Linked DNA regions of Homo sapiens. The protein of the gene in region 2 purifies or fractionates together with the protein of the main gene of each other region. This does not show direct contact. Each region holds a gene or a part of one and is shown on either strand. Other genes may lie near its edges.

The links.
Region 1: the proteins of KNG1 (region 2) and CTSV purify together in Homo sapiens (affinity purification with mass spectrometry; 4 studies listed by BioGRID and IntAct, with this or other methods). This does not show direct contact.
Region 3: the proteins of KNG1 (region 2) and CAPN1 purify together in Homo sapiens (affinity purification with mass spectrometry; 4 studies listed by BioGRID and IntAct, with this or other methods). This does not show direct contact.
Region 4: the proteins of KNG1 (region 2) and ANAPC1 purify together in Homo sapiens (affinity purification with mass spectrometry; 4 studies listed by BioGRID and IntAct, with this or other methods). This does not show direct contact.

What each region holds. Positions count from the first base shown.
Region 1 is NC_000009.12:97,036,009-97,043,503, reverse strand, and holds the start of CTSV (cathepsin L2 preproprotein), read left to right. Parts: upstream 1-4,361; 5' UTR 4,362-4,433; intron 4,434-5,450; 5' UTR 5,451-5,460; coding exon 5,461-5,586; intron 5,587-5,888; coding exon 5,889-6,011; intron 6,012-6,105; coding exon 6,106-6,252; intron 6,253-6,756; coding exon 6,757-6,981; intron 6,982-7,495. UniProt on the Homo sapiens protein: Cysteine protease. May have an important role in corneal physiology.
Region 2 is NC_000003.12:186,733,809-186,741,461, forward strand, and holds part of KNG1 (kininogen-1 isoform 1 precursor), read left to right. Parts: intron 1-5,290; coding exon 5,291-5,398; intron 5,399-5,519; coding exon 5,520-5,606; intron 5,607-7,653. UniProt on the Homo sapiens protein: Kininogens are inhibitors of thiol proteases.
Region 3 is NC_000011.10:65,198,851-65,206,503, forward strand, and holds part of CAPN1 (calpain-1 catalytic subunit), read left to right. Parts: intron 1-5,832; coding exon 5,833-6,008; intron 6,009-6,859; coding exon 6,860-6,871; intron 6,872-7,612; coding exon 7,613-7,653. UniProt on the Homo sapiens protein: Calcium-regulated non-lysosomal thiol-protease which catalyzes limited proteolysis of substrates involved in cytoskeletal remodeling and signal transduction. Proteolytically cleaves CTBP1 at 'Asn-375', 'Gly-387' and 'His-409'.
Region 4 is NC_000002.12:111,873,771-111,881,423, reverse strand, and holds part of ANAPC1 (anaphase-promoting complex subunit 1), read left to right. Parts: intron 1-574; 5' UTR 575-598; coding exon 599-811; exon of another isoform or gene 812-931; intron 932-2,452; coding exon 2,453-2,614; intron 2,615-7,653. UniProt on the Homo sapiens protein: Component of the anaphase promoting complex/cyclosome (APC/C), a cell cycle-regulated E3 ubiquitin ligase that controls progression through mitosis and the G1 phase of the cell cycle.

The DNA.
Region 1 (7,495 bases), on a different chromosome or scaffold from region 2:
ATGTGGAAGTGAATGCTCATGCTACACCAGAAGAGGAGAACTGGTACCGAGTAAGAGCTGAATTCTCATTGATTGATTTACGTGCTTGATGAATTGGCTGATAGTTTAACTCTACAGGAAAAGCACAGTTACAGTAACCAAGAAAAGTAGTTATTTCATAAGTGGTTTTATATGAACCTCAAATCATAAACAGGCTGTTTGCTATACGATTATCAATGGTGACAAACCATTTTGCAAGTGGACAGTTTGCTGGATAATGCTTCTTAAGAGTAATTCTTGGCTCAGTGAATTTAAACAAATCGGAGGGGGTTATTATACTGGGGAGAGGTGTTAAGTGATGTCAGGGTCTTGAATGCCACCACACTAAGTTTGCCAGTTCCCCTATGGTTTAAAATTTCCGGAGACTGGGTAAAGAATCACATCCTCTTTTATTTATTTATTTATTTTTGAGACAGAGTCTCACTCTGTTGCCCAGGCTAGAGTGCAATGGCGCAATCTCGGCTCACTGCAACCTCCACCTCTCCGCGATTCTCCTGCCTCAGCCTCCCAAGTAGCTGGGACTACAGGCATGCACCACCACACCTGCCTAACTTTTTTTGTATTTTTAGTAGAGACAGGGTTTCACTATGTTGGCCAGGCTTGTTTCAAACTCCTGACCTCAAGTAATCCACCCACTTCAGCCTCCCAAAGTGCTAGGATTACAGACGTGAGCCACCATGGCTGGCCTATATCCTCTTTTAATAGTGAGTAAAAGAAAGCTACACAGATGCACGTGAGAATATACTTTCACAGGCACTGCGTTTTAAATAGGAATCAGGAAGTTCTGCCAACTCCATTTTATTAAAGGCATAACCAAGGCTTGGTTGCTTCACTAACATGTGACTGTTCTAAAAATTATCACTCATCAAAATTATTTTGCAAAGAAATAGGAATAGAAGAGTAGGGAAAGAAACAAATATTTAAATACAACTGTCCTGGCTAGTAATACCACATTTCTGTAATGCATTTTTTTACAGATGTGTATAAATAGATATAAATAGGTGTCCTAAGTTGGAGCAATAACGTCTTCCACCCTCTTGCTTATTGGCTTTCTCCCATATTTCTTCTGCATTTACATATTTCTGGTATAATTTTAGATTTGGGGCACACTTGGTTTGAAAAGGGTCTATGTTTTCTCCACTACTTTTGTCTCACATTCCAAAAAACAAAGGGGATGCCATTCTTCAGGGCAGCACCTGCCACTCATCTGCTGTCAGGCTATTGCTTAAGGCACAGATCTTAATGGCCTGGCAGGTTTCTCCACCCTACAATCTTAGGGAGCTGTGGCCCAAGGGCAACTGTAAAACCCACGTGTTAGAATAACTTAGCTTTCTTGTGATAGACTGAGTAAACAAATAGACAATGGCCATAGTATATGGCAATAGAACTCTGACCCACAGAAGAAATGAAGCATAATATCTGCAGAGACCAACTCAGAACAGTCAGGACTTACTCAGTGGCTGACAGCTTCCTCATTTTTGCCTCTGCTTCCAACCCAGGACAAACCAGAAAAACCAAATATACTCCACAAACAAATCACATAAGACGCTCCATCTCTAGTTATCCCTCCTTCAGCTTCTCCATGACGACACTCTGCAAAGAGGACATAGCTGAAGTTGCCCCCTTTTTCCCCTAAAGCTTTTCTTCTCCCTCGTCTTTGAATTATCTCCTTTGTTATAGCAAGTTCTGAATATATGGCCTCTGTTTGTTCTTAGGTGGTGGTCTTCATTTATTTCCACATGTGAATGATGATTGTGTTCAACACAATGATTAATTTTTAAAAAAGAAAAAAAACAGCTATTTGCAGTACAAGATGCTTTTTTTTTTTTTTTGAGACGGCAAATTTGCAGTACAAGTACAAGATGCTTTTTTTTTTTTTTTTTTTTTTTTGGGACGGCATCTCGCTCTGTCACCCAGGTTGGAGTGCAGTGGCGCATGCTCTGCTCCGCTCACTACAACCTCAGTCTCCCAAGTAGTTGGGACTACAGGCATGCATCACCATGCCTGGCTAATTTTTGTTTGTTTGTTTTGTATTTTTGGTAGAGGTGTGATTTCGCCATGTTGCCCAGGCTGGTCTCAAACTCCCAGGCTCAGGAGATCCACCTACCTTGGCCTGCAATACAATATACTTTTGTATTTTTTATATAACCACCTGACAGCTTTGGCCCCTAGTTGTATTTGAGAGGGAAAAGCTGCTATTTATTTAAAGGAAGGACATATAATTATTAATAAATTGATTTTTAAAAAGATGTATTTGCCTGATGGTGCTTCTGAAAAGTTGTCAGTTTAATTGTTTTTAATTTGTTAAAAGAAAATCCATAGCCAAATTAAATTTAAGAGAATTTAATTGAGCAAAAAACAATTCGTGAATCTGGCAGCCTCCAGTGCCAGAGTAGGCTCAGAGAGACTCCAGTGCAGCCACATGGGGGAAGATTTATAGACAGAAAAGGGCAAGTGAGGCACAGAAACTGCAGGATTGGATACAGCTCCATGTTTGCCTTATTTGAACATGGTTTGAACAACTGAACCTCTTTGATTTACAGAAATTCGGGGATAGGCACAAGAGCAGGCTACAGTCTGTTTACACCTCCATTTAGATTACAATTCGCTATGTACAGAGAAACCTTTAGGCCAAACTTAAATCACATGGGGAGGCAGCTTTAGGCTAAACTTGATTTCACAAATTTTCAAATTAACAAGTAAAAACTGTGGATATTATTCAATTTAATCTTTAAGAGTTTATTAATCAATATGCATTATAACTTCATTTTTGTAAAAACAAAAAAAGATATGCCTAGAAAAGGGTTATGGAGAGGGCACAAGGGACGTTTATTTTCTAAAACATATTTTTTATAATGGATTTTTTTATATAACTTTAAAAAGAATTAGAAACGTTTCTGAATTATTAATGATTTCCTTAAATCTTTAGCTACATATATTTCTCCATAAAGAGCAGTTCCTCAAACTGCATCACCTCAACCCTGATATTATATATTTTTATTTTTATTTTTATTTTTTGAGACAGAGTTTCGCTCTGTCACCAGTCTGGAGTGCAGTGGCACGATCTCAGCTCACTGCAACCTCCGCCTCTCGGGTTCAAGCAATTCTCCTGCCTCAGCCTCCTGAGTAGCTGGGACTACAGGCGCCCGCCACCACGCCCAGCTAATTTTTGCATTTTTAGTAGAGACAGGGTTTCACCATGTTGGCCAGGATGGTCTCGATATCATGACCTCGTGATCCGCCCGCCTCGGCCTCCCAAAGTGCTGGGATTACAGGTGTAAGCCACCGCGCCCGGCCGGTATTAAACATTTTTAAAGTAAATTTATTAAATCTCAAAAGAAGCACACTTTGAATACTGAGGAAGAGACGTTGTAACCCATAAGCAGAGAGTAGGTAAGTAAAAGCAATTTCCACCACTCTCAGACTGGGCGTAGTGGCTCACGCCTGTAATCCCACCACTTTTGGGAGGCTGAGAGGGGAGGATCGCTTGAGGCCAGGAATTCAAGAGCAGCCTAAGGAAACTTAGCCAAACTCCATTTCTACAAAAGAAAAATTTTTAAAGCAATTTATTTCACCATTCTCAACGCTTTTCTCTTTTTTATTAACCAAATATTTCTGTAACTCTTTTTTTTTTTTTTTTTTTTTTTTTTGGTATTGAAAGACATGGGAGAAGGAAGAATTCCTGAATGCAACAGACTGGGAAGGACGCACCACAAAACGCTCCGCGGTCTCTGGACACCCTATCAGCTAGTCCCGTCCCTCCTGGTGTCCGGTCTCGACCATCCATCCCGTGTTTTGGGAGTGCCTTTCCTTACCAGATTCTTCTAAAGCCCTGATGCACCCACCCTTAAGTGGAAGGTAATGCTTCTGCTGGGGGCTGTGCGTTCTTCCACTCCGTCCCACCTTTGCCGTGGACTAAACAGGAGCCACTGAACGAGAGTACCCTGGCTCCCGGCCCTGCAGATTTTCACCAAAAACTCTAGGACTAAGTTAAAGTAGGGACTGAAATACCACACAGAGCTCGCTGTAAACCACCCGCTCAGCGCAGTAAGTCGGGATAGTCAGTAGATCTGAGCCCTTGAGGGAGGCGCCTCCCCCTCCTCCGCGCAGCCCCCGGGCGCCCGGCCCAGCTTCCCGCAGCCAGGGTGTATTGAGGTAGGCGCGCCCAGACCTGAGACGGGTTGGGACTGGGCTGCGTCACGCGCGGGCTCTAAGCGCCCGGGGCCCCGCCCAGTGGCCGGCACAGCCAATCGCAGCGCGGGAAGGCGGTGGGGGCGGGGAAGGCCGCCTGGAAACTTAAATCCCGAGGCGGGCGAACCTGCACCAGACCGCGGACGTCTGTAATCTCAGAGGCTTGTTTGCTGAGGGTGCCTGCGCAGCTGCGACGGCTGCTGGTGAGCGCCCCCGACCAGACCGAGGGACAGGGCGAAGGGGGACTGGAGGAGGGAACCCCCCTTTAGGGACACTGAGAGGAGGCGGGCGCTTCTGGGAGTGAGAGCTTCTGCCCGGAGCTCTGCCAGCCTCGAGGTGGGGAACGGGGGAGGGCGGTTGGAGACCCCAGGGAGGCGCCGGCACCACTGGGAGGGCCCGGGCGGGGCAGGTCAGTCATCCTGTGGGCTGAAGCCGGACCGGACCGGGCGGCTTCATGCCCCCAGCCTGGCCGCGGAGCCCCCGCTCCCTGCACCGCCGCAAACATTCTCGGGGCGCGGCGGCGCGTGCAGAGGGCGAGAGCAGGCGGTGCGGCCCCGGTCCTGGCCCGCCCGGAGCTCCGGGAGCTGCCTGCCTCGGTCCGGGCCCTGGCCCTGGGGCCCCTGGCTTCCAGCGGCGCGGCCTTGTGACCCTGCCCCGGTTTAGGGGAGCGAGTAGCACAGACCCAAGTGTGGGACGGCGGGAATAGTGGGTGCTCTCCTTCCCAGTGTCTCCTGGAAAGGGATTCCCGAAAGGTTTTATTCCAAAAGGAGAGGTTGGAAGACATAGCTCATCTCCTGCTGTGTATCAGCCAAGAAGGTGTGAGGTGGTGTTCCTTGGGGATCCGCTTGCATCTACTTGGGATGGTACGTCTTCATTAGTGAGGTTTTGCCTGGATGACCTCAGTACAATTGGTGCAAAACCTGGACCAACTCTTTCCTAGTTTTCTAGTTGTTGCCTTAAGCTTCTCACCCGTCAGGTATCTTTCACACCCTTCTCATACCCTAAATTATCGCATATGCTGTTTCAACGCCTCCAACTCTGCAGGCTGCTTTTAATTTTGGTGGGCCCATCAAATACCTCCACTTGGCCTGTTTCAGCCTCTTCCACAGTCCTTGGGGAAATGCTAGGGAGAATAATTGAAATATTTCTATTCCACGGGGGCTGTAAGATGGCTTTTTAGGATTGGTCTAATCAGATACTCATTTCTTTTCTCTTTCTAGGTTTTGAAACATGAATCTTTCGCTCGTCCTGGCTGCCTTTTGCTTGGGAATAGCCTCCGCTGTTCCAAAATTTGACCAAAATTTGGATACAAAGTGGTACCAGTGGAAGGCAACACACAGAAGATTATATGGCGCGGTTGGTAACATCTGAAACTGTCCAGAGGGACTCTGGAGAGAATGGTCCTCGCTGTTGGGAGTTGATAGCCAGAGAGTAGCTTCTAGACACCAGACCTTACCAGGCAATAACCTAACAGCACCCATTATAGGTGCAATATGGGCATATATCTCCATTGTGTCTTGGCTTGGAGAACAGCTCCCAGAGAAGTATCAACCCATCCCTGGCCATGGTTTCTCTTCCATTTCTGCCCGCAAATCGGCTTGGTGAACATGGGTTGGGTAAGTAGACATAAAGTCCACCAGCTATATGTTTGCCTCTAGAATGAAGAAGGATGGAGGAGAGCAGTGTGGGAAAAGAATATGAAAATGATTGAACTGCACAATGGGGAATACAGCCAAGGGAAACATGGCTTCACAATGGCCATGAATGCTTTTGGTGACATGGTGAGTGTGGCAAGGATTGCTGAACTCTGTGCTGCTTCTCAGTTCTTCACCAAAATAGTCTTGCTTTTAACATTTTATTTACTTCTCCTTGAAGACCAATGAAGAATTCAGGCAGATGATGGGTTGCTTTCGAAACCAGAAATTCAGGAAGGGGAAAGTGTTCCGTGAGCCTCTGTTTCTTGATCTTCCCAAATCTGTGGATTGGAGAAAGAAAGGCTACGTGACGCCAGTGAAGAATCAGGTGAGACAGCGTCAGATTCAGACCCTGTCTCCACAGGAAAGCCAAGAAGGAATTGGTGTCATTGCTGTGGTAGATGGTGGCACAACATATGGTGATGGGTTTTTTGTATTTTTGGTTTTTGGTGTTTTTTTTGTTTGCTTGTTTGAGACGGAGTTTAGCTCTTGTTGCCCAGGCTGGATTGCAATGGCGTGATCTCGTCTCACTGCAACCTCTGCCTCCTGGGTTCAAGAGATTCTCCTGCCTCCACCTCCCGAGTAGCTGGGATTGCAAGTGCTCACCACCATGCCCAGCTAATTTTTGTGTATTTTTAGTAGCGACAGGGTTTCACCATGTTGGCCAGGCGGATTTCAAACTCCTCTCCTCAAGTGATCTGCCCGCCTCGGCCTCCCAAAGTGTGGCGATGGGTTTTTTTTTTTTTTAAAGAATATTAAGGTAATTCAATTATGGGGTACTGTATTTGTATTGGTCTTGTAAATTTACAGCTTTTTTTTTCTCCCTTTTTAGAAACAGTGTGGTTCTTGTTGGGCTTTTAGTGCGACTGGTGCTCTTGAAGGACAGATGTTCCGGAAAACTGGGAAACTTGTCTCACTGAGCGAGCAGAATCTGGTGGACTGTTCGCGTCCTCAAGGCAATCAGGGCTGCAATGGTGGCTTCATGGCTAGGGCCTTCCAGTATGTCAAGGAGAACGGAGGCCTGGACTCTGAGGAATCCTATCCATATGTAGCAGTGGTAAATGGAGCTCCTTATCTTGTCATTCGTGCTCTGCTTTTGGAAAGTGGAACACTTTCAGAGATAACAGATACTTTTTTCAGAATTCACATTTTATATGGTAGAATCTACATCTGCAAACCGTGAGTATTGTCATTATAAATTATTAGCCTTTGGCCAGGCGTGGTGGATCACCTGTAATCCCAGCAGTTTGGGAGGCCGAGACAGGCGGATCACGAGGTCAGGAGATCAAGACAATCCTGGCTAACACAGTGAAACCCCGTCTCTACTAAAAATACAAAAAAATTAGCCCGGCCTGGTGGCGGGTGCCCGTAGTCCCAGCTACTCAGGAGACTGAGGCAGGAGAATGACGTGAACCCGGGAGGCGGAGCTTGCAGTGAGCCAAGATCGCACCACTACACTCCAGCCTGGGCCGCAGAGCGAGACTCCATCTCAAAAAAAAAAAAAAATTATTAGCCTTTGCACAGTTCTCTGGTGAGATGGTCAACAGCTAATGGTTACCATATAAGTACCA
Region 2 (7,653 bases):
AAATACAAAACTAGCCAGGTATGGTGGTACATGCCTGTAATCCCAGCTACTCGGAAGGCTGAGGCAGGAGAATCACTTGAACCCGGGAGGCGGAGGTTGCAATGAGCCGAGACCGTGTCATTGCACTCCAGCCTGGGCAACAAGAGCAAAACTCCTTCTCAAAAAAAGAGAAGAGCCTACATGTCTAGCAACTCCAATAGTCTCTGACTGATGTCATTATGGACAGACCCCTATTTTAGAGACTAAAAATTGGCTTCCCTAAATACAAGCTAAATAAAAATAATCAAAATAGAGCCAAATTGTTACAGCAAGCCAACATAATCCTCATAATCTGGTGAAAAAATTCTCACTAAAAAGTTCATACTTTTGGCTCAGAATTGAATTTCTAGGAATCTAAAGTAGGAGTCTTTATATACAATGATATTCACTGCAGTTTTAAGTATAACAGCAAAAATAGTAAACTGTCAAAATGATTAATATGAGAATGATTAGATCATGTCTGGCATATCCTCAGAATAGAGTGTTAAGCAGCAACTTAAAAGCATCTTTGTGCGGAGCTCTTGATATGGGGAATGTCTTGTGTTATAATATTCAGTGAAAAAAAGGAGGCATAAAATTGAATATACATGATGTTATCAGTTGTGTTATTTTAAAGTACAGAAAATAATGTGGGAAAAAAAAGTGGCTCACGCCTGTAATCCCAGCACTTTGGGAGGCCGAAGTGGGTGGATTGCTTGAGGTCAGGAGTTTGAGACCAGCCTGGGCAACATGGTGAAACCCCATCTATAATATTAGGTTGGTGCAAAAGTAGTTGTGGTTTTTGCCAAAGTAATGGCAAAATCACAATTACTTTTGCACCAACCTAATAAAAATTCCAAAATTAGCAGGGTGTAGTGGTGCACACCTTCAATCCCAGCTACTCAGGAGGCTAAGGCACAAGAATGGCTTGGACCCGGGAGGCGGAGGTTGCAGTGAGCCGAGATTGTGCCACTGCACTTCAGCCTGGGCGACAGAGTCAGACTCCACCTGGAAACAAACAAAAAAACGAATGCCTCATAGTCATAGTGGTGATTTTTAGGTGATGGAATAACACTACTTTAATCTTTCTAATTTTCTGTATTACTTTTGTAACTGAAAAAAAGTAAACAAACTAGATTAAAGTAAATCAAAACTGATACTTTGATCTCTCTGCTACTTGAGCACTTGTTTCTATCCCAGACACAACCACCCTCTCTCTCTGATTTCATTGCCATATGACCACGTTAGGTTTACTTGAAAGGGACGCCAATCTATGCTATTCATGCTTTTTTCAGCTTTAACTTCTCACTTTATATTTCTGCTTTCTTGTGAAATTATTTTATTCTTTTTTCGTTGTTGTTTTTTAAGAGAGACGCGGGCCAGACATGGTAGCTCATGCCTGTGATCCCAGTACTTTGGGAGGCAGAGACAGGAGGATCACTTGAGCCCAGGAGCGAGACCAGCTGGAGCAACATAGCAAGACCCTGTCTCTACAAAAAAAGAATTAAAGGCCAGGCGTGGTGGCTCATGCCTGTAATCCCAGCACTTTGGGAGGCCGAGGCAGGTGGATCACCTGAGGTCAGGAGTTCGAGACCAGCCTGACCAACATGGTGAAAAACCATCTCTACTAAAAATACAAAAATCAGCTGGGTGTGGTGGTGGGTGCCTATAATCCCAGCTACTCGGGAGGCTGAGGCAGGAGAATCACTTAAACTCGGGAGGCGGAGGTTGCAGTGAGCAAAGATCATGCCATTGCACTCCAGCCTGGGTGACAAGAGTGAAACTCCATCTCAAAAAATAATAAAAAAAAAAAAGAATTAAAAAATTAGCTGGGTATGGTGGTATGTGCTTGTAGTCCCAACTACTTTGGGAAGCTGAAGTAGGAGGATTGCTTGAGACTGGGAGGTCGAGACTGCAGTGAGCTGTGATCGTGCCACTGCACTCTAGCCTAGGTGATAGAACAAGACCCTTTGGGCAACAGAGCAAACAAAAAGAGAGAGAGATGGGGGTCTCACTATGATGCCCAGGCTGGACTCGAACTCCTGGGAGCAAGCAATGTGCCCATCTCAACCTCCCAAGTAGCTGGGATTACAGGCGCACACCAATGCACCCAGCTCCCTTATTCTTTATTCTGAATGTTGTAGGAATAGGCCACCATGTATTGTATGTCAGAGGTTTGCCATCAAAAACAGAACCACTCATTCTCAAGCATGAATATCTAGTCTTCTTAGTAGTTACAGTTTTCTCTGTGGATTAATGAATCAACATTCTAGTATGCATATGTGTCTACATTAAGGATGTCAGGGGGACACAAAGAGGTAACCCATCAGATAGCTGCCAAGTCAATCTGAATATTGCAAGAATTTCAAACTTACTTTAGAGAGATAAATCTTTACTAATTTTTGCATTTAAAGAGAGCAATTTGGTTGCTTGGACATAGTCACCCAAGGCAGCCTTGATGGAAGCAGCCAATTTACTGGAAATCAATTAAACATATGATGAATTTGCTAAAAGCTAGTCTCCAAAATGACCAATTTGCCAAATTGCTAAATATTTATAGTTTTAATCTTGCCTTGGGTTTGCACATTTAGTCCTGTTTGGATGCATGTTGATTCCACGTTGGGTTCATATTTCAGATATGAAACACTTCCTGAATCTTCCATTTTCACACATTAGTGATTACAGTTTCATATAAGTTTTATTTTGCCCTACCACCACTGCTGCTGTCCCCAAGGCTGTTGATGCTCCTGTCTGCCTCTGCTGAGATGAATAAACTTCCAAGATCTGTGTGTGCACATGCAGAAATTTTTCCTTTGACAAAGTCCTAGGAATGTCAAATAATATGTAGATATATAAGACTTGATGCAAATTGCCAGAATCACCAAATATTTGCAATGATGCCAATTTACATTCACATCACCTGGGTATAAGACACCAGTTGAGGCCAGGCGTGGTAGCTCATGCCTGTAATCCCAGCACTTTGGGGGGCCGAGGCGGGCGGATCACCTGAGGTCAGGAGTTTGGGACCAGCCCAGCCAACATGGTGAAACCTCATCTCTACAAAAAACACAAAAATTAGCCAGGTGTGGTGACACTTGCCCGTAATCTCAGCTACTTGGGGGCGCTGAGGCAGGAGAATCACTTGAATTTAGGAGGCGGAGGTTGCAGTGTGTGTCACTGCACTCCAGCCTGGGTGACAGAGTGAGACTCCGTCTCAAAAAATAAAAGAAAAAAGACACCAGTTGAGGATCTTAATTTGAATTCTCTTCCTACCAGCAGTGACTGAGGCTGCTTGATTCCTATGCCTGGCCAATGCCACGTATCATCAATTTTTGTTTTCATCTTTGCCTGCATGGAAGGCTAACAATGATGTCTCATTGCTTTTTTAATGTGCATGTTTTTGTTTATTAATGAAGTTAAACTTTTTTTTAGGCTTAATGACCGTTTTAACTTCTCTGAAATACCTGCTCATGGCTTTTGTCCATTTTTAGTGTTGGGCTTTATATTCATACAGACATTGATTCTATATCATAGTTTTCCCAGCTTGCCTTTCTACTTTGCTTATTGTGATTTTTCAGAAGCAGTTTTCATTTTTCTCTAGTCAAGTTTTAGTATTTTCCCCTTCCTTCAGATTTCTTTCCTCTGCTTTTCACCTAAGAAAGGCCTTCCTCATCCTGGGTTTTGGTGAATATTTATTTATTTGTTTAGTTGTTTTTTGTTTGTTTGTTTTTGTTTTGTTTTGTTTCCCGAAACAGAGTCTCACTCTGTCACCCAGGCTTGAGTGTAGTGGCGTGATCTTGGCTCACTGTAACCTCTGCCACCCAGGTTCAAGCGATTCTCCTGCCTCAGCCTCCCAAGTAGCCGGGATTAGAGATGCTTGCAACCATGTCCGGCTAATTTTTAGTATTTTTAATAGAGACAGGGATTCATTATATGTTAGCCAGGACGGTCTCGAACCCCTGACCTCAGGTGATCTGCCCGCCTCAGGCCCCCAAAGTGCTGGAATTACAGGCAGGAGCCACTATTCCCGGCCAACACATTTAAATACTATGATTTAATACTAAATAATTTGGTTGAGAAATTGGGCCACAAAATATTTAATGGAAGATAGTGTTGAGTAGTGATTAAAACTGTTGCTAGAGATTAAAATAATTTTTTTTTCTTTTTGAGACAGAGTCTCACTCTGTCACCCAGGCTGGAGTGCAGTGGCATGACCTCAGCTCACTGCAACCTCCGCCTCCTGGGTTCAGGTAACTCCCCTGCCTCAGCCTGTCAAATAGCTGTCAAATTACAGGTGTGCATCACAAAGCCCATCTAATTTTTATATTTTTAGTAGAGGTGGGGTTTCACCACGTTGGTCAGATTGGTCTTGAACAGCTGGCCTTAAGTGATCCACCCGCCTCAGCCTCCCAAAGTGCTGGAATTGCAGGCATGAACCACCACGCCCAGCCTAAAATAATTTCTTAATATTAAAAATAGTAAGAGAACAATAAAAACCCCAAATAATTTTTCTAATTACAAAATTTAATCCACATAATTTCTATAGTAGTACTAACTCAGTATTTCACCAATTCAAGATTTGGCAGGACAATAAGGCATATTTAAAAACATTTTAAGTTTTTCTTCCTATTCCTGTTAGATTATTAGATATTACAACTTGAGCCCTTGAATTACTAGTGAATTTAACAGCTGTTGGACAATAAAACTCAAATAAATACATAAATAAATAAAAATTATAGGCCAGGCATGGTGGCTCATGCCTGTAATCCCAGCACTTTGGGAGGCCGAGGCAGGTGGATCACCTGAGGTCGGGAGTTCGAGACCAGCCTGACCAACATGGAGAAACCCCATCTCTACTAAAAATATAAAATTAGCCAGGCGTGGAGGTGGGCAACTGTAATCCCAGCTACTCAGGAGGCTGAGGCAGGAGAATTGCTTGAATCCAGGAGGCGGAGGTTGTGGTGAGCCGAGATCGTGCCACTGCACTCCAGCCTGGGCAACAAGAGCGAAACTCCATCTCAAAAAAAAAAAATAAAGAAAATTATAGCTTGCTTATTTCTTCCCCCACTTAGAAAAGGAAATGGGACCAACCGATAGCCAAATATTTTAAATATGCATGCCAAGCTTTAATGCCAAACGTGTACTTTTTTGTATGTAACTCTCTAAGTTGGTCAATTAAAATTTCAAGATTCTCCCTTAACATTTCTTAAAGATAAATGATTTATTATGCAAATATTTTTAAGCGTTTACTTTGTACTAATTAATTTTTCAGGTGGTGGCTGGCAAGAAATATTTTATTGACTTCGTGGCCAGGGAAACCACATGTTCCAAGGAAAGTAATGAAGAGTTGACCGAAAGCTGTGAGACCAAAAAACTTGGCGTGAGTAGTCATGCACCTGTCTACTTTTTCACTGGAAGCCTATTTGATGTTTTTAGAATCATTTGTTTAAATGTCTCGTGAATAACACTGTCTCTCTTTCGACTTCTGTTTTCATGGATAGCAAAGCCTAGATTGCAACGCTGAAGTTTATGTGGTACCCTGGGAGAAAAAAATTTACCCTACTGTCAACTGTCAACCACTGGGAATGGTATGATTCTAATTACAGTCAGCGTGGGGTCAGTTCTGCTCATTCTGAAAATCCATATTTGGGGGCTGAAAATGAACCATTACTGAAATGAATTGGGGAGCTATCTTTTTTAAATGGGGAGTAACTCTCACACTTCTGTGCTGATCTCTGTTTAATGGCTAGAAAGAAGAGTAACAATCCTCCTGATCACTTCTCACACATTGTCAGTGTCTCAGTGAAGCTTCTATAGACTCTCTCCTAGTGCACTGCAGTCCTGCTGTGGGGGAGCAACATTGGCTATGCCAGGTGTACCTGAGGCCAGATACAGCACTCCACTGCATTCTGCTGACATGCAAGGACCATGTGAAAAATGCATGGCTGGGCGCGGTGGCTCACGCCTGTTATCCCAGCACTTTGGGAGGCTGAAGCAGGCAGATCACCTGAGGTCAGGAGTTTGAGACTAGCCTGGCCAACATGGTGAAACCCTGTCTCTACTGAAAATACAACAATTAGCTGGGTGTGGTGGCGCCTGTAATCCCAGCTACTCAGGGGGCTGAGGCAGGAGAATCCCTTGAACCCAGGAGGTGGAGGTTGCAGTGAGCCGAGATCCTGCCACTGCACTCCAGCCTGGGCAACAAAGAGCGAAACTTTGTCTCAAAAAAAAAAAAAGAAAAGAAAAATTCAGACTCGCAAACCCCACTTCACAGCTACCGAATTTTAACCAGATCCCCAGGGGATTCATATGCATGAATCAAGTTTGAAAAGCATTCGTTGATGTCATCTTTCTTTTTTAAGTCTTAAAAGAACTCTGGGAGGTAGTAACACTTTCCCTATTGTCAAGGATGAGACACTAAAAATTAGAAAGACTCTGAGGTCCTGAGTGAATAATGACATTATCAAATGCTTCCTCTGTCCCAGGCACTATACTGAAGGTTTCACCCACATTTTCGAGTCCTCCTTATAACTCTGTGAGGCAGGTGCTGTTATTATTTCTATTTTACAGAAAGGAAAAGTGAAGCTGATGGCACTTGGATTCAAATCTTGGTCAATTCAGAGTCTACCCTTTCCATCACGATGCTGATTACCAGTAGGGTCTGGCCGGACTCCAATGACCATGTTCTTTGCATCACCAGACACTGCTTCCAATTAACACATTCTCACAGGTAGCAAAAGTGTAGGTAGAATTAATCCACAGATCGACATATTTGAAGCAGGTTACCTCTTTTCCCTCTTTTCTGATTTGGTCTTTTGTCATGTGTAGGTATGTAGATGGTGTAACACAAACATTGTCCTCAGGTTGCATTTCAAGCTTGCGAATATGTCCTAATGTGCTTCAGCACAACAAAGTGATCATGGATACATGCTCCCTATATATTCAGTTCATAAAGCCACTTAGGGCCTTTTAGGATAAAAGCAGTGATGGTGGTAATAACAGTAGTATCAATAATTAAATACTGTGCTCAGTAAAAACATAGGCTCAGAAGCTACCCTAGAGATTAGCTAGTTCAACCATCCAGATGAAGCAAAAACACTCCAGCTTATTTTACAGTTTTTTTTGTTGTTGTTTGGCTGGGTTTTTTTGTTTTTTTTTTGTTGTTGTTGTTGTTTGTTTTTTGTTTTTTTTGACAGAGTCACTGTCGCCTAGGCTGGAGTGCAGTGGCGCCATCTCAGCTCACTGCAACCTCCACGTCCTGGGTTCAAGCAATTCTCCTGCCTCAGCCTCCTGAGTAGCTGGGATTACAGGCATGTGCCACCATGCCCAGCTAATTTTTGTATTTTTAGTAGAGATGGGGTTTCAGCATGTTGGCCAGGCTGGTCTCAAACTCCTGACCTCAAGTGATCTGCTCGCCTTGGTCTCCCAAAGTGCTGAGATTACAGGTGTGAGCCACCATGCCTGGCTATTTTATGGTATTATTAACAACAATAATTAATGTCCACAAATTTTAAGATCAATCAAAAGACAAAAAAAATTATTCATCCTTTCTGGAATGTTAATATAGCATTTAAAATCTGGCAAACACCTCCCCCATTGTAAACTAAGATAACATTGCCAGATCTCAGTGTTTTT
Region 3 (7,653 bases), on a different chromosome or scaffold from region 2:
AGTTGACGGAGTCGCGCTCTGTCGCCCAGGCTGGAGTGCAGTGGCGCGATCTCCACTCACCGCAACCTCTGCCTCCCAAGTTCAAGCGATTCTTCTTCCTCAGCCTCCCAAGTAGCTGGGATTCTAGGTGTGCACCACCACATCCAGCTAATTTTTGTATTTTTAGTAGAGATGGGGTTTCACCATGTTGACCAGGCTAGTCTCGAACACCTGGCCTCAAGTGATCCACCCTCCTCAGCCTCCCAAAGTGCTGAGATTACAGGCATGAAGTACCACACCTGGCCCTTTTTGTATTTGTATTTTTATTTTTTAGCAAGGGTCTGTTGGTTATAAACTTTCTCAGTGTTTGTCTAAAATGCCTTTATAGTGTGCTTATTCTTGACAGTTCTCTGGATATAGAATTCTGGCTTGACATTATTTTCAGCCTCTCAAAGACACTATTAGTCCTGTTCTGCTTCCATCATTGCTATGTGAGCCAGGAGTCTGTCTACCTTGCCTTCTGGAAAAAATCTTAATTTTTTTTTTCTTTCATACTATACGATTCACCATGATGTGTGGAGGTATGGATTTCTTTTCATTCTGCCTTGAATGTATTGAACTTCCTGGCTATGAATTGATACCTTTCAACAATTCTAGAAAATTTGTAGTCATGATCTTTGAGAATATCACCTCCTTCCCACTCTCTGTATATTCTAATAAAATCTAAACTGGACCTTCTCACTCAATCCTCTCTTTCTCTTAACCTTGCTTTTAGATTTCCCATCTCTTAGTGTCTCTGGATTGCATTCTGGGTTGTTCCTTCAGCTCCTTTCTCAGTTCACTAATTTTCTTTTTTGCTCTGTCAAATCTGTTAGTTATTTCTTCCAAGAACTTAATTTCAATTTTAAAAATTTTGTTTCTAGAAGATGTAATGGATCTTTTCAAATCTGTTCATTTTTGCTCAAATTTTCAAACTTTTCATCTATTTCTTTAAACATAGTAAGCATAGTCTTATATTCTGTGTCTGATAAGGTCAATATCTGAAGTCTTAGTGGTCAGTTTTTGTCCACTGTGGCTGCTGCTCAGTTATCACGCCTTGTTTGCTTGTGAGATCTCTGCCCCGTGAGAGAGTTCTTTGAGTCCTCAGATAAAGTTAAATTGCTCCGGGGTGTTTCTGCTAGTCACCTGGAATGCCACCAATCCAGAACACCTTTTTCGTTCTTTTTTATTTATTTACTTATTTTTTGAGACACAGTCTTGCTCCGGCTGGAGTGCAATGGCATAACCTCAGCTCACTTCAGCCTCGACCTCCCAGGCTCAAGGAATCCTTCCACCTCAGCCTTCCCAGTAGCTGGGACTACAGGCACACACCACCATGCCCAGCTAATTTTTGTAGAGATGGGGTTTTACCACCTCGCCCAGGCTAGTTTTGAGCTCCAGGACTCATGCGATCTGTCTGCTTCAGCCTCCCAAAGTGCTAGGATTACAGGCGTGAGTCTGAGTCACCATACCCAGCTTTGTTCTTTTTTTTTGGAGATGGACTCTCACTCTGTCGCCCAGGCTGGAGTGCAATGGTGTGATCTCGGCTCACTGCAACCTCTGCTCCCCAGGTTTAAGCAATTCTCTGCCTCAGCCTCCTGAGTAGCTGGGATTACAGGCGTGTGCCACTATGTCTGACTAATTTTTTGTATTTTTAGTAGAGACAGGGTTTCACCATCTTGGCCAGGCTGGTCTTGAACTCCTGACCTCGTGATCCACCCACCTTGGTCTCCCAAAGTGCTGGGATTACAGGTGTGAGCCACCGTGCCCGGCCGCCTTGTTCTTTTTTTGAGACAGTGTCTCATTCTGTCACCCAGGTTGGAGTGCAGTGGTGCAATCATAGCTCACTGCAGCCTCAGCCTTCTGGGCTCAAACTATCCTCCCAAGTAGCTGGGACTATGATAGAGACACACACCACACGCCCAGCTAACTTCTTACATTTTTTGGAGAGATGGGGTCTTGCTAGGTTGGCTAGGCTGGTGTTGAACTCCTGGGCTCAAGTGATCCTCCCACCTCAGCCTCCTGATTTACCTGGGACTACAGATCCATGCCACCATGCCTGGCTTTTTTTTTTTTTTTTTTTTTTTTTTTTTTGAGACGGAGTCTGGCTCTGTCACCCAGGCTGGAGTGCAGTGGCGCAATCTCAGCTCACTGCAAGCTCCTTCTCCCGGGTTCGTGCCATTCTCCTGCCTCAGCCTCCCCAGTAGCTGGGACTACAGGTGCCCACCACCACGCCCGGGTAATTTTTTGTGTTTTTAGTAGAGATGGGGTTTCACCATGTTAGCCAGGATGGTCTTGATCTCCTGACCTCATGATCCGCCCATCTTGGCCTCCCAAAGTGCTGAGATTACAGGTGTGAGCCACCACGCCTGGTCGTCTGGCTCATTTTCTTACTTTTTGTAGTGATGGGGTCTCCCTATGTTGCCCAGGCTGGTCTTGAACTCCTGGGCTCAAGCAGTCCTCCCACCTCGGTCTCCCAAAACACTGGGATTACAGTCCATCAGCCACTGTGCCTGGTGCAGGACGCTTTTAAGACTAAATTATCTTCTTAAGGTTTCACAGGCAGTGTGAATTAAAACTGAAAGGTCATGTGAAGCCTGGCTTGAGGTTATTTTTTCCTTCCCTCCAGGGAGGTTTAATTTTCTTTCTTTCTTTTTTTTTGTTTTTGAGACGGAGTCTCGCTCTGTCGCCCAGGCTTGAGTGCAGTGGCGCGATCTCGGCTCACTGCAAGCTCCGCCTCCCAGGTTCATGCCATTCTCCTGCCTCAGCCTCCCGAGTAGCTGGGACTACAGGCACCTGCCACCACGCCCGGCTAATTTTTTTGTATTTTTAGTAGAGACGGGGTTTCACCGTGTTAGCCAGGATGGTCTCGATCTCCTGACCTCGTGATCCGCCCGTCTCGGCCTCCCAAAGTGCTGGGATTACAGGCGTGAGCCACCGCGCCCGGCTTTTGTTTTTGTTTTTTTTTTTTTGAGACACGGTCTTGGTCTGTTGCCCAGGCTGGAGTGCAGTGGCATGATCTTGGCTCACTGCAACCTCCACCTCCCGGGTTCAAGCGATTTTCCTGCCTCATCCTCCCGAGTAAGTGGGACTACAGGTGCCCACCACCATGCCTGGCTAATTTCTGTATTTTTTCAGTAGAGAATGGGTTTTACCATGTTGGCCAGGCTGGTCTCAAACTCCTGACCTCAAATGATCCACCCGCCTCGGCCTCCCACAGTGCTGGGATTACAGGCGTGAGCCACTGCGCCCAGCCTAATTTTCTTTCATACTTCATTGCTGACATTCCTGACGGGGGTTCCAGTTTAATTGCAGGAACTTCCTGTTGGATTCTCTACCTCAGGTAGATGTTTATCATCTGCTTCTATACCCTGGGGTTCAGGGGTCTACAGAAGCCCTTTAGCATTATTTACCTTGCAGGGTTCCTACTTTCTATTTTTTAAAAATATCTTTATTGATACTTAATTCACATACCATACAAGTCACCTATTTAAAGTTGCAATTTAAATATACTATTAAATATACAATTTAAATGTACTGAAGTATATTACGATTTTATTTATTTATTTATTTGTTTGTTTGTTTGTTTATTGAGATGGAGTCTCGCTCTGTCACCCAGGCTGGAGTGCAGTGGCCAGATCTCGGCTCACTGCAACCTCTGTCTCCTGGGTTCACGCAATTCTCCTACCTCAGCCTTCCAGGTAGCTGGGATTACAGGCACCTGCCACCATGGCCACCTAATTTTTGCATTTTTAGTACAGACGGGGTTTCACCACGTTGGCCAGGCTGGTCTCAAACTCCTGACCTTAGGTGATCCAGCTGCCTCAGCCTCCCAAAGTGCTGGGATTACAGGTGTGAGCCACTGCACCTGGCCATATATTACGATTTAAATATACTATTAAATATACAATTTAAATATACTATTTAAAGTATATTCACAGAGTTGTGCAACCATCACCACATCAATTTTAGAACATTTCATTATCCCAAAAACAAATGAGGTACTCCTTAGCCATGACTCCCCAGCCCTCCCAGCAGCCCTGGCAACCACAAATCTACTTCTTATCTCTATGGATTTGCCTACTGGGATATTTCATGTGAACAGGATCATATAATACATGGTCCTTTGTGGCTGGCCTTTTTCATTTAGCATAATGTTTGCAAGGTTCCTCCATGTTGTAGCATGGATCAGAATGTTGTTCCTCTTTGTTGCCAAATAATATCCCATTGTTTGGCTCCATATTTTGTATATTCACTCTTCAGTTGATGGATAATTGGGTAGTTTCATCCACTCAGCTGTTATAAATAATGCAGCCATTAACATTCTCTCTTTTTTTTTTTAAATGGAATCTTGCTCTCTTGCCCAGGCTGGAGTGCAGTGGCACGATCTCGGCTCACTGCTACCTCTGCCTCTGGGTTCAAGCGATTCTCCTACCTCAGCCTCCTGAGTAGCTGGGATTACAGGCATGTGCCACCACGCCCAGCTAGTTTTGTGGGTTGTTTGTTTTTGAAACTGAATCTTACTCTGTCGCCCAGGCTGGAGTGCTGTGGCACGATCTCAGCTCACTGCAACCTCCGCCTCCCAGGTTTAAGCGATTCTCCTGCCTCAGCCTCCCAAGTAGCTGGGACTACAGGCATGGGCCACCATGCCCAGCTAATTTTTGTATTTTTAGTAGAGGTGGAGTTTCACCATATTGTCCAGGCTGGTCTCAAAACTCCTGACCTCAAGTGATCCGTCTGCCTGGGCCTCCCAAAGCGCTGGGATTACAGGTGTGAGCCACCGCGCCCTGCCACACTCTTATGAACAAGGCTTTGCATGGACACGTTTTCATTTCTCTTGGGTATAGAGCTTGGAGTGGAATTTCTGGGTCATATGAAGCTCTGTGTTTAACCTTTTGAGAAAGTGCCAGAATGTTCTTCGGAGCAGCTGCAACATTTTACATTCCCACCGGCATCCTGTGAGGTTCCCATCCCTCCACATCCTCACCCAAGTTGTTATTATCTTTATTATTATTATTATTATTGTCAATGGAGGGCAGGGGATGCAGTGGCTTATTAGTGCCTTTAAAAATAAGTTTTGCAGTTTACCGTTCTATCCCGCACTGGGTTGTTTTAGTCAAGAAGGTTCTTTAGGCAGCAAAATCACCCAACTGCCAGAAATGCAAGCCCCTGCCTTCCCTTGCTGGCTGGCTGTGGCCTCCTGTCGGACCCCTGCTTTTTCTCTTGCCTTCTTCTAAGCTGTTGTCCACGCAGCACTCGAGCCACCTTTTAGAGTCCTAATGCAGTCACATGCCTCCTCGCTGCAAGCTGTGGGAGGGTTCTTACCCTTTGCTTCAGTCCACACGCCCTAGTCCCTGGCCGGCTCCTGGGAGCTCTGCGGCCTCCCTGGGTCTCCGTGTTTCCTAGAGCCTCCGTAAGTGCTCCCTGTCCGCAGATGCGTGGGGCCCTTCCTCACCTCTGCTCTGGGGTGCCCTCCGCCTGGCTTCTGCTTCTCAGCAGCTTCCCAGGGCAGCCCCTTCGGGTCTCAGCGCATAGGTCCCCTACTCTGATCTACTCCTGCTTGCTTTTTTTTGCAGTTGCTCTGCTCGCTAACCTAACGGACTTGCTCAGACTTAAGCCTCTAGTTTCCAAATGCAGGCCGTGAGGGCATGGACCGAGCCTGGCCCAGCCTGCCCATCACCCTGCATGTTCCAGGTGCTCAATAATATTTGTTGAATGAATGAATGCGTGCACAGGGACGTGCTGAGGAGGCTTGGGGGCCAATTGGCTCTGCCCCGCCCTGCCTCTGATCCCCGCCTCCTCACCTGCCCGCAGCCACCTTCTGGGTGAACCCTCAGTTCAAGATCCGGCTGGATGAGACGGATGACCCGGACGACTACGGGGACCGCGAGTCAGGCTGCAGCTTCGTGCTCGCCCTTATGCAGAAGCACCGTCGCCGCGAGCGCCGCTTCGGCCGCGACATGGAGACTATTGGCTTCGCGGTCTACGAGGTCAGGAGGGTGGATCACCGGTGGATCTCACTGAGCAGGCAGAGGACCTGGCGCCCCCGACCCGCAGTGCAGGCGGGCTTCCACCAGGGGGCGCCAGGGACCATGCCCTTCCCCACAAATTCCCCTCCACTCCCCCCACCATCCTGAGGGCTGGGAAATCTCAGCCTCCAGGAGGCACCTGCTGAGGCCCTCTGGCCGAAAGAGAGGAAGGGGGTTGGCTCAGGGAAGGGAGATTCTGGGATTCACCTCACGCTTAGAGGGCGGCCTGCTGCTCTTGGAGGAGGGAGCTGGCTCAGCTGATGCCTGGGAGTACTGAGCCCTCCGTCTTGGAAGCTGTGAGCAGAAGCTGGCAGGGGAAAGATAGGGGATAGGGAGGGCCTGTCGGCCAAGGTGAGGCTGTGCCAGTCGCTCTGGGATTAGAACTCCTTGCTCTTGCCCTGTATCTGCCCTGCTTCACACACTGCCCTCAAGACAGGGAGAGAAACTTCTGGACCTCCCTGGTCGCAGTCTTGGCCCACACCCAAACCCCCTGGCAGCAGCCTGCGGTGGCCCTTTCCTGTCCCTGGGCTTTGGAACATTGCAGTTGGCCACCCCGGGGGCTGGCCTGGAGCCTCTGACTCAGAATGGAGTCCTAGGGCAAGCATTCCCAGGACCAAGAGGACCCTGCCTGAGCCCTCCCTCCTGGGGCCCTGCTGTGGTGCAGGGACCAGATCTGGGTCCCCAGGGCCCTGCCTTCTGCCTCCTTATCCCATCAGTCCCGTCTAAGAACTCAAGACCTCTGCCCAGCATGCACTGTGACCCCGCCCTGGGACAAACACACATCTCTGACTTCCCCTGTCTCTCTATTGCAGGTCCCTCCGGAGGTAGGTGTGGCACCATGACCCACCTGCAGTCACACACCCCTGATGGTGCCAGAGGGGAGCAACCCAGTGGCAAACCCACCCTGGCCTGGAGAGCTAAGAAGTCACCTTGTTTCACTGCTTGAAAAATGCTTCTCCCCACCTGTTCAGTGGGCAGAGCAAACATTGCTCTCCTGAGGGTCAGCACAGGTAGTCAGTGAGGGAGCTGGATTTGAGCCCTGGTCCTCAGAGCCCCTGTCTGACATGTACACATGAGGCTTTTCCTGCCTTGCCATCTACACCAAGTAAGTGCCAACTAGGGCGGTCCAGCAATGTCAGGAGCAGGGCATTAGACAGGCTGAGAGTTCTGTACCCTTGAGCAGTTGCTTAAGCTCCGAGCCTGTGTTTGTGTCTGTAAAATGGGTGTAACAGCAGAACAGCAAATGAGGTGCCGAGTACCCTGCAGTACCTGACCTGGGGAAAGCTCCCAGTGATAATAATGACAGTGTTATTGAAACACATGCCTAATCTGCAATCCGGTGCTCCTCTCCTCTACCCTCTGCAGTGAGTAGGGTTGTTACATTTTACAGATGAGGAAACTGAGGCAAAATGTCTTGTTAGGGTCACACAGGCTGTGAGTGAGCCATGCCCCAGCTCTCCAGCCCCTTGGCCAGGACAAGGAGCCTGGAGTCTGGGTCTGGGGGTGGCCCCTGAGGGTGGGCTGAGTGGGCAGCTGCAGCCCTGCTCCCTCCTCCCTCCCACCAGCTGGTGGGCCAGCCGGCCGTACACTTGAAGCGTGACTTCTT
Region 4 (7,653 bases), on a different chromosome or scaffold from region 2:
GTTATATATTTAGGTGGGATTGGGGGTGTCACAGCTACTTAAGACATTTGAAAACCTATGTCTTTTGTAGATTGGTCAGCTGAAAGCAGTTCAACCTCTGATGAATTAGAGTAATGTGTGGTTTTTTATTGTTTTATTCCAATATGACAATGATCCCTTAGATGTACTTTTCAAATGAGGTTCTGGCATCTAACCAGAAATGACCTTAAATGTTGAAAAGCCATGTAGTTATGGGACCATAGAATACAACTTGTCTAAATACTTCATATATAAAGTATGGAAAAATTAGCGTATAGTAGTGGGAAACACGGGATAGGTGGTGCGGGACATAAGTACTTGTTGCATCTCAGTGGTTTCCTATAGTGGTAACTGTCAGTCTGTGACTAAAATGTGATAATTGCAACTGTCTGAATCAGATCTAGAATGCCCTTTTATGTTATGACCAACTTATATACTTACCAGTCTGATATAATTACTTGACACCCATGTAAGGATTAATGACTTGTGTGTTTATGGTATTTTTATTCTAGTTTTGAGTCTGGAAGCTGACCAGAATGTGTTTGAATTCATACAGAAATAATGTTGATATTTGGAACCCATGTCGAACTTCTATGAAGAAAGGACAACGATGATTGCAGCAAGGGATTTGCAGGAATTTGTTCCTTTTGGTCGAGACCACTGCAAGCACCACCCTAATGCTTTGAACCTTCAACTTCGCCAGCTGCAGCCAGCTTCTGAATTATGGTCTTCTGATGGTGCTGCTGGCTTGGTGGGATCCCTTCAGGAGGTTACAATCCACGAGAAACAGAAGGTTCCATTGAGTTTCCCATTGTGTTTTTGAAATGTAGAGTGATATAATCTACTTGTAATTTAAGGCTACTAAGATGCAACTGAGAGATCGGTGTGATGCCACTTCTAGAGTAGAGTTAAGGTGTGGTAATTTCAATAAATGTTGAAAATAATGACTTTATTACATTGTCATAGCGACTTATTTAGATACCCTCTATAACTTGTGGTTTTATTTATTTTTTATTTTTCAATTTTTTTGTTTGAGATGAAGTTTTGCTCTTTTTGCCCGGGCTGGAGTGCACTGGTGCGATCTTGGCTCACCGCAACCTCTGCCTCCCGGGTTCAAGTGATTCTCCTGCTTCAGCCTCCCGAGTAGCTGGGATTACAGGCATGCACCACCACCCCTACTAATTTTGTATTTTTAGTAGTGATGGGGTTTCTCCATGTTGGTCAGGCTGATCTTGAACTCCGGACCTCAGGTGATCCACCCGCCTCGGCCTCCCAAAGTGCTGCGTTTACAGGCGTGAGCCACTGTGCCCGGCCAACTTGTGGTGTTATAATGTGAGTCAGGTTCAGTAGTATGATTGTTGTCCATTTTAAACCTTTTTCTTTTCACTTAATATGTGGGGACCAGATTTCATGTTATCTAATGATTAAATGGTAGAGATTAGAAGTAGTCCCTGCTGCAGAAGATTTACATGTTTCTAAAGGAGAGAAGAAATGCCACAAAAGTAGGTAGAGTAATAGCTTTTTTTTTTTCCTGAGACGGAGTTTCACTTTTGTTGCCCAGGCTGGAGTGCAATGGCACAATCTCAGCTCACCGCAACCTCTGCCTCCTGGATTCAAGTGATTCTCCTGCCTCAGCCTCCCGAGTAGCTGAGATTACAGGCATGTGCCACCACGCCCAGCTAATTTTGTATTTTTTTAGTAGAGGCGGGATTTCTCCATGTTGGTCAGGCTAGTCTCAAACTCCAGACCTCAGGTGATCCACCTGCCACGGCTTCCCAAAGTGCTGGGATTACAGGCGTGAGCCACCACACCCGGCGAGTAATAGTTCTTAAGTAGAGGAATGAGATGTTAAGTGTGTGTCAGAAAATGAATCCCTCCTGCCTTATTCCATTGTCATATCCCTTTGGGATACTAAAATCTCGGGGAGGGAAAGCCTATGTAGTTACAAATGGAAACTTCTCTTTCTTCCATTCATTTTGGTGGGTGGGACAAAGGAAAAGAAGGTGAATATATATGTGATTGCGAAGCAGGAAGTCTGCATTTGTGTGTGAACTCCCCAAGTGATTCCCACGTGCACCTCACTGTCCTTTCCCTACCCTACCTCATATACTTAATATGTCCTTTTAGTCTCCCAAGCATGTGATTTGACTTTTGGAACTATAGAGAAGGTGTACTTTTTGTTCGTTTTTGTTTTTGGCAGAGTAATATAGAGGAATAATATAAAACATTCAATATAGAGAATTATTGAGTAAATTCTTCATGTAATTCTGTAGTGTAATGCATATATCCACATCCTCCGTTAATCAGTGTACCAAACTTTGTAGGAGTTGTGTTTGAATTGAGTCTTACTCCATGGGCAAATAAATTTTGTTCCAGATTTTTGAAGAACAAAAAAAGAGTGCTTGAATATGTTTTACATGTGTTAATTTTTAAGGAAAGCTGGCAGTTAAGGAAAGGAGTAAGTGAAATTGGAGAAGATGTGGACTATGATGAGGAACTCTATGTTGCTGGAAATATGGTGATATGGAGCAAAGGAAGTAAAAGCCAGGCATTGGCAGTTTATAAAGCATTTACAGTTGACAGTCCTGTTCAGCAGGTGAGTTGATTTGAATTTTAGCATTTGATTCACTATTTAATGCAATTAAAAAAAAGTTTTGTTTTAAAATTTAACAGAAATGATAAAACCAGCCTAATGATCTCAGCAGCTGGGTGTACGTTGTAACATGACATAATATAATGTGAAGATAATGGCAGGAAAATAAAAATTTAATTTTATTTTTATATCATCACTTTTTTTACACTCTTCTTTGTCACTTTAATGGTAATCTTTAAACACTCTGTCCTTATGTAATTCAATTTGTTATTGCCAGCAAAAACCTATAAAACATGAAGAGTACAGAAATATTTTAACACATGATTACTATAATTGATTGCAAAGATTTGAATAAATAAAAATCGTGGGATTCATAATGGTAGAGAGAAAGGAAAAAATCTGCTTTGCAGCCATTGCAGTTGGCTGTTATAACTAACTGTTCTGAAAGTTGATAATGAAAGGGAAAGAATTAAGCATTTGCCATATTTTTTCAGGAAGACATGCAGTTCATCTCCATTTGATGAAGGAAAACTTGTACTTAGAGAAGAATGCTAGCTAATAAGTGTAAAAGGAATTGTAGAATTAGAATATCACCATTTTGTAACCTCCAGTGCAATAATTGATTCCAACAAGGATTGTAAATGGATACTAACACTGTTGGTTGAAAGAATATTACCATGGCACCAACACATCACCCTGTGGATTACCTGGTAAATGTGAAGGAACAAATGTACCTCTACTTTGGAGTTATTTGTCAGTCTCCACCTCAATCAAGTGATTGAGTTTAGCATAATTAGTAGTGACATGAAGGAGTATTATGTGCTTCTAGCTATAATACAGAATGAAGTACATGATGTCATCTAAGTTTTCTTCCCAAAAATATGAATATTTAGACCTAACTTCCTATTTATAGGAAATATAGGCAATAGAGAATTATATTTTAAAATACCATGAGATAAGGAAATAGATAGCTAGGAATGGCTAAAGCTTTATTATTATTATTATTGTTTATTTATTTATTTGTTTTTTGAGATGGAGTCTTGCTCTGTCACCCAGGCTGGAGTGCAGTGGCATGATCTCAGCTCACTGCAAGCTCTGCCTCCCAGGTTCATGCCATTCTCCCGCCTCACCCTCCCGAGTAGCTGGGACTGCAGTTGCCCGCCACCACACCCGGCTAATTTTGTTTTTATATTTTTAGTAGAGCTGGGGTTTCACTGTGTTAGCCAGGATGGTCTCGATCTCCTGACCTTGTGATCTACCCACCCACCTCGGCCTCCCAAAGTGCTGGGATTACAGGCGTGAGCCATCATGCCCAGCCAAGCTTGATAATTATTAAAACTGGCTGATGGGGATTCATTATCCTATTCTGTTTACTTTGTATTTATTTGAAATTTTCCATTATAAAAAGTTTATAGTCTACATTCTGGTTTCTTTAAAAAAGTCACGGAGAAAGAAAAAAAGGTGGGGACTGTTCTACATTGAAAGAGACTAAAGAGACATCACCAAATGCAGTATTTTTTGATCCTTGTTAAATGAACTTTGATTGAGTCCTGGTTTTCTAGCTAAAAAGATATTTTTGGGGAAAATTTGGGAAAGTTGAAAATTACTGGCCAGTAGCTGATGTTAGAGAAGTATTATTTTTTTCTCAGGGACGATGATTTTATGGTTTTATAGGAGAACATCTTTATTTTTAGAAAAGGCATGGTGAAGTATTTAGGGGTGAAATGTCATGATGTGTGTGCAATTTATTTTTAAACAGTCAGCATTCCCATTCCGAAAATCCCATATGTACACAAATGCACACACACAAACAAATATGGCAAAATTTTCATGATTGTTGGATATAGGTGAAATATGTTTGCTGCATTATTTCAACTTTTCTTACTGAAAATTTTTATAACAAAAAGTTGGAGGAAGAACTAATGCATTTATTGTAGTTGAATTAGGGTTGACGAGGTTTTGGAGGCTTTGACTAATGTTAAGTTTCATTTTTGTAAATGCTGAAATCTTTGTATCTGGATACTGCTTCCTCCCACTCCTCCCGCCTACCGTTAACTATTTCCTGATGAGTACTGTATTCTATTTATTGGAAAGGATAAACTGAATCATTATTCCAACATTTGAGGGCATATGTGAAAGCATTTGTGTCCTGGAGTGTTGAAGCCAGTGATCTTTTTGATGGTAAATTTTTTCCCATATAATTCATATAGTTAGTATAGATGTGAAAAGTGCATTTGATGATATCCAAGTAGTTCTTTGCTTCTATATCTTCATCTTAATTTCTCCAAGAACAGTTGCCTATTTACTAGATTCTATGGAAGTGCAGTTAGATATATTATCTCCTTTATCTTAAGATCACTTGTAAGTGTAATTGTAAGATTTGGAATTTCAGTCTTTTGATCTGGAAAATATATTGTTACTTAATCTTCTTGCTAATATGGAGAAAGATAATTTTCTATTTTGTTTATGAAATAATATCAGGTATATGTGACTCAGATTTTATCTGTTCATTGTTTTACCTATCCTGCAAGTATTTTTTTTTTGGTTGTTCTTTTTATTTTTTCATTTATTCTTTTTGTTTTTTAATAGAGATGGGGGTCTCACTATGTTGTCCAGGCTGGTCTTGAACCCCTGGGCTCTAGTGATCCTCCTGGCTTGGCCTCCTAAAGTGTTGAGATTACAGGCGTGAGCCACTGTGCCTGGTCTTCTGCAAGTATTTAGTCTCACTCTGTTTCAGCCATTATGCTGGGGCTACAAAGGTGAATGTAGTTTCTGCCATTGAAGGACTCATAGCCTAGAAAGGAGAACAAACAGATCACCTGAAATGCTGTATTCTGAATGCTGTATAATAACTACCTGTCCACAGAGTGATGAGAGCCCAAAGGACTGAGTGCCAAAGGGAGGGTTTTTCAAAGAAGATGCTATTTGTGTTATAAAATGGTGGCAGAAGGGCATTCTAGGCAGAGGAAATCACAGCAAAAAGAATTATGGAAAAAGATGACTTTTTAAACTTCAGAATGGCTGTACACGAAGTGTGGGTGTGGAGAGATGCAAGTGGATGCTGGCAGTATACAGACCAAAGGGCCTTGTATATAAACCAAGGAATTTGGATTTTAAACTGTGTGCTGAAGGGAGCCTGCCAAGGATTTTAAAATGGAAGCGATCAATTTTGTGTTTTGAGAAGAGATTGCTTTGTTAGCAATATATATATAGGATTGACTGGAGAGGAGGGAGACTGTTGTCAGGGGCACTATTTTGTGACTGTTCAGGTAAAAGATTGGTGCCTTGGCAAAGAAGGGGTGATAAAGCAGAGGGAGATGTGGAAGGGGTTAGTGATCTCTTAGATATCAGGGATAAAAGAGATGTTAAAATATTTACTTTTAGAGGCTGAGAGGATGGGATTTCATCAAAGGAAGTTGAGACTGTAATCGGTGCATTGTAGATTTTGGACATTTCAGGTTGGAGCACAGCTCTCATGCATGGTTTTCTTCCTGAATTTTCATTTCTTAACCATTAAAATCTCCCACAACTCAACAATAAAACAAACTACCCAATTAAAAAATTGGGCAGAAGGACTTAAATGGACATTTTTCTAAAGATGCACACATGGTCAGTAAGCACATGAAAAGATGCTCAGCTTCGCTAATCATTAGGCAAATGCAGATTACAACCACAATGAGATACCACTTTACTAGGTTGGCTGTTATTAAAGAAACATAACAAATGTTGGTGAGGATGTCCAGAAATTGGAACTCCTGTGCATTGCTGATGGGAATGTAACATAGCTGCTGTGGAAAAGTTTGGCGATTTCTCAAAAAGTTACACGTGTAGCCAGGCATGGTGGTGCATGCCTGTACTCCCAAGCTGTTCAGGAGACTGAGGCAGGGGGGTCATGTGAACCCAGGAGTTCTAGGCTGCTGCGAGCTAGAATCATGCCTTGCATTGCAGTTTGGGTGACAGAGTGAGACCCCATCTCTTGAAAGAAAAGTTATACTTAGAATTACCATTATGATCCAGCAGTTCCAGTTCTAGGTATATGCACAATTGAATTGAGAACAGGGATTCACAGATACTTGTACACCAGTGTTTTCAGCAGCATTATTTATGATAGCCAAAAGGTAGAAACAACCCATGTCCATTGACAGATGAATGGATAAACAAATGTGGTATATGCTAACAGTGGAATATTGTTTAGCTTTAAAAAGGGATAAAATTCTGATACATGTCATAACATGGATGAACCTTGAAAACATTATGTTAAGTGAAATAAAATAGATATAAAAGGACAAATGTACAGTTTCACTTACATGAGATACCTAGCACAGGCCCTTTCATAGGGAAAGTGGAATAGAGGTTACCAGAGCTCAGGGCATTGGGAAATGGGGAGTATTGTTTAATGGGCACGGAGTTTCTGTTTGAGATGAGGAAAAAGTTCTGGAAATGTGCAGTATTGTACAAGCTCACAAATTGTACTAAGCTCGTCAATTTAATGTTAATGCTACTGAATTGTCTACTTAAAAATTGTTAAAATGTTAATTTTCATATTGTGTGTATTTGACCACAGTTTAAAAAAAAACACAAAATGCTGTTAAATAATAAGTGATTGCCAGGTATGTCAGTTAAAGTTTAATAGCTTTTCCTAGTTTATATTTTGTAAGATGGGCTTTTAAGAAAGGGAGGAGTTAGTTTTTCTAAAGACTTTTTCAAAAGTCAGTCTAGAGAGAGTCTAAGATCAGTTGTTTAATCTGGAGATTATAAAGTTTGAATAATCTTTAGTTTTGTAGAGGATATAGGGTTTAGTATGGTTTGAGCTACTATTTGAATTTTTGCTGCAAAGTTTCTATCTGGTAGATTTTTTGATTCTTGTCTTCTCTTTTTGTAAAATTTATTTTTTTAATTTAAAATTTTAATTCCTATGGATCTTTTCATAAAATTTAATTGTAAACATATTTTGCCTTTCCTTATCATATTTATCATTTATTACTCTAATTTATTTTTTCTTATTCTTTTTGTTCCCATGATTGTACATGTTGAGCTGAGGA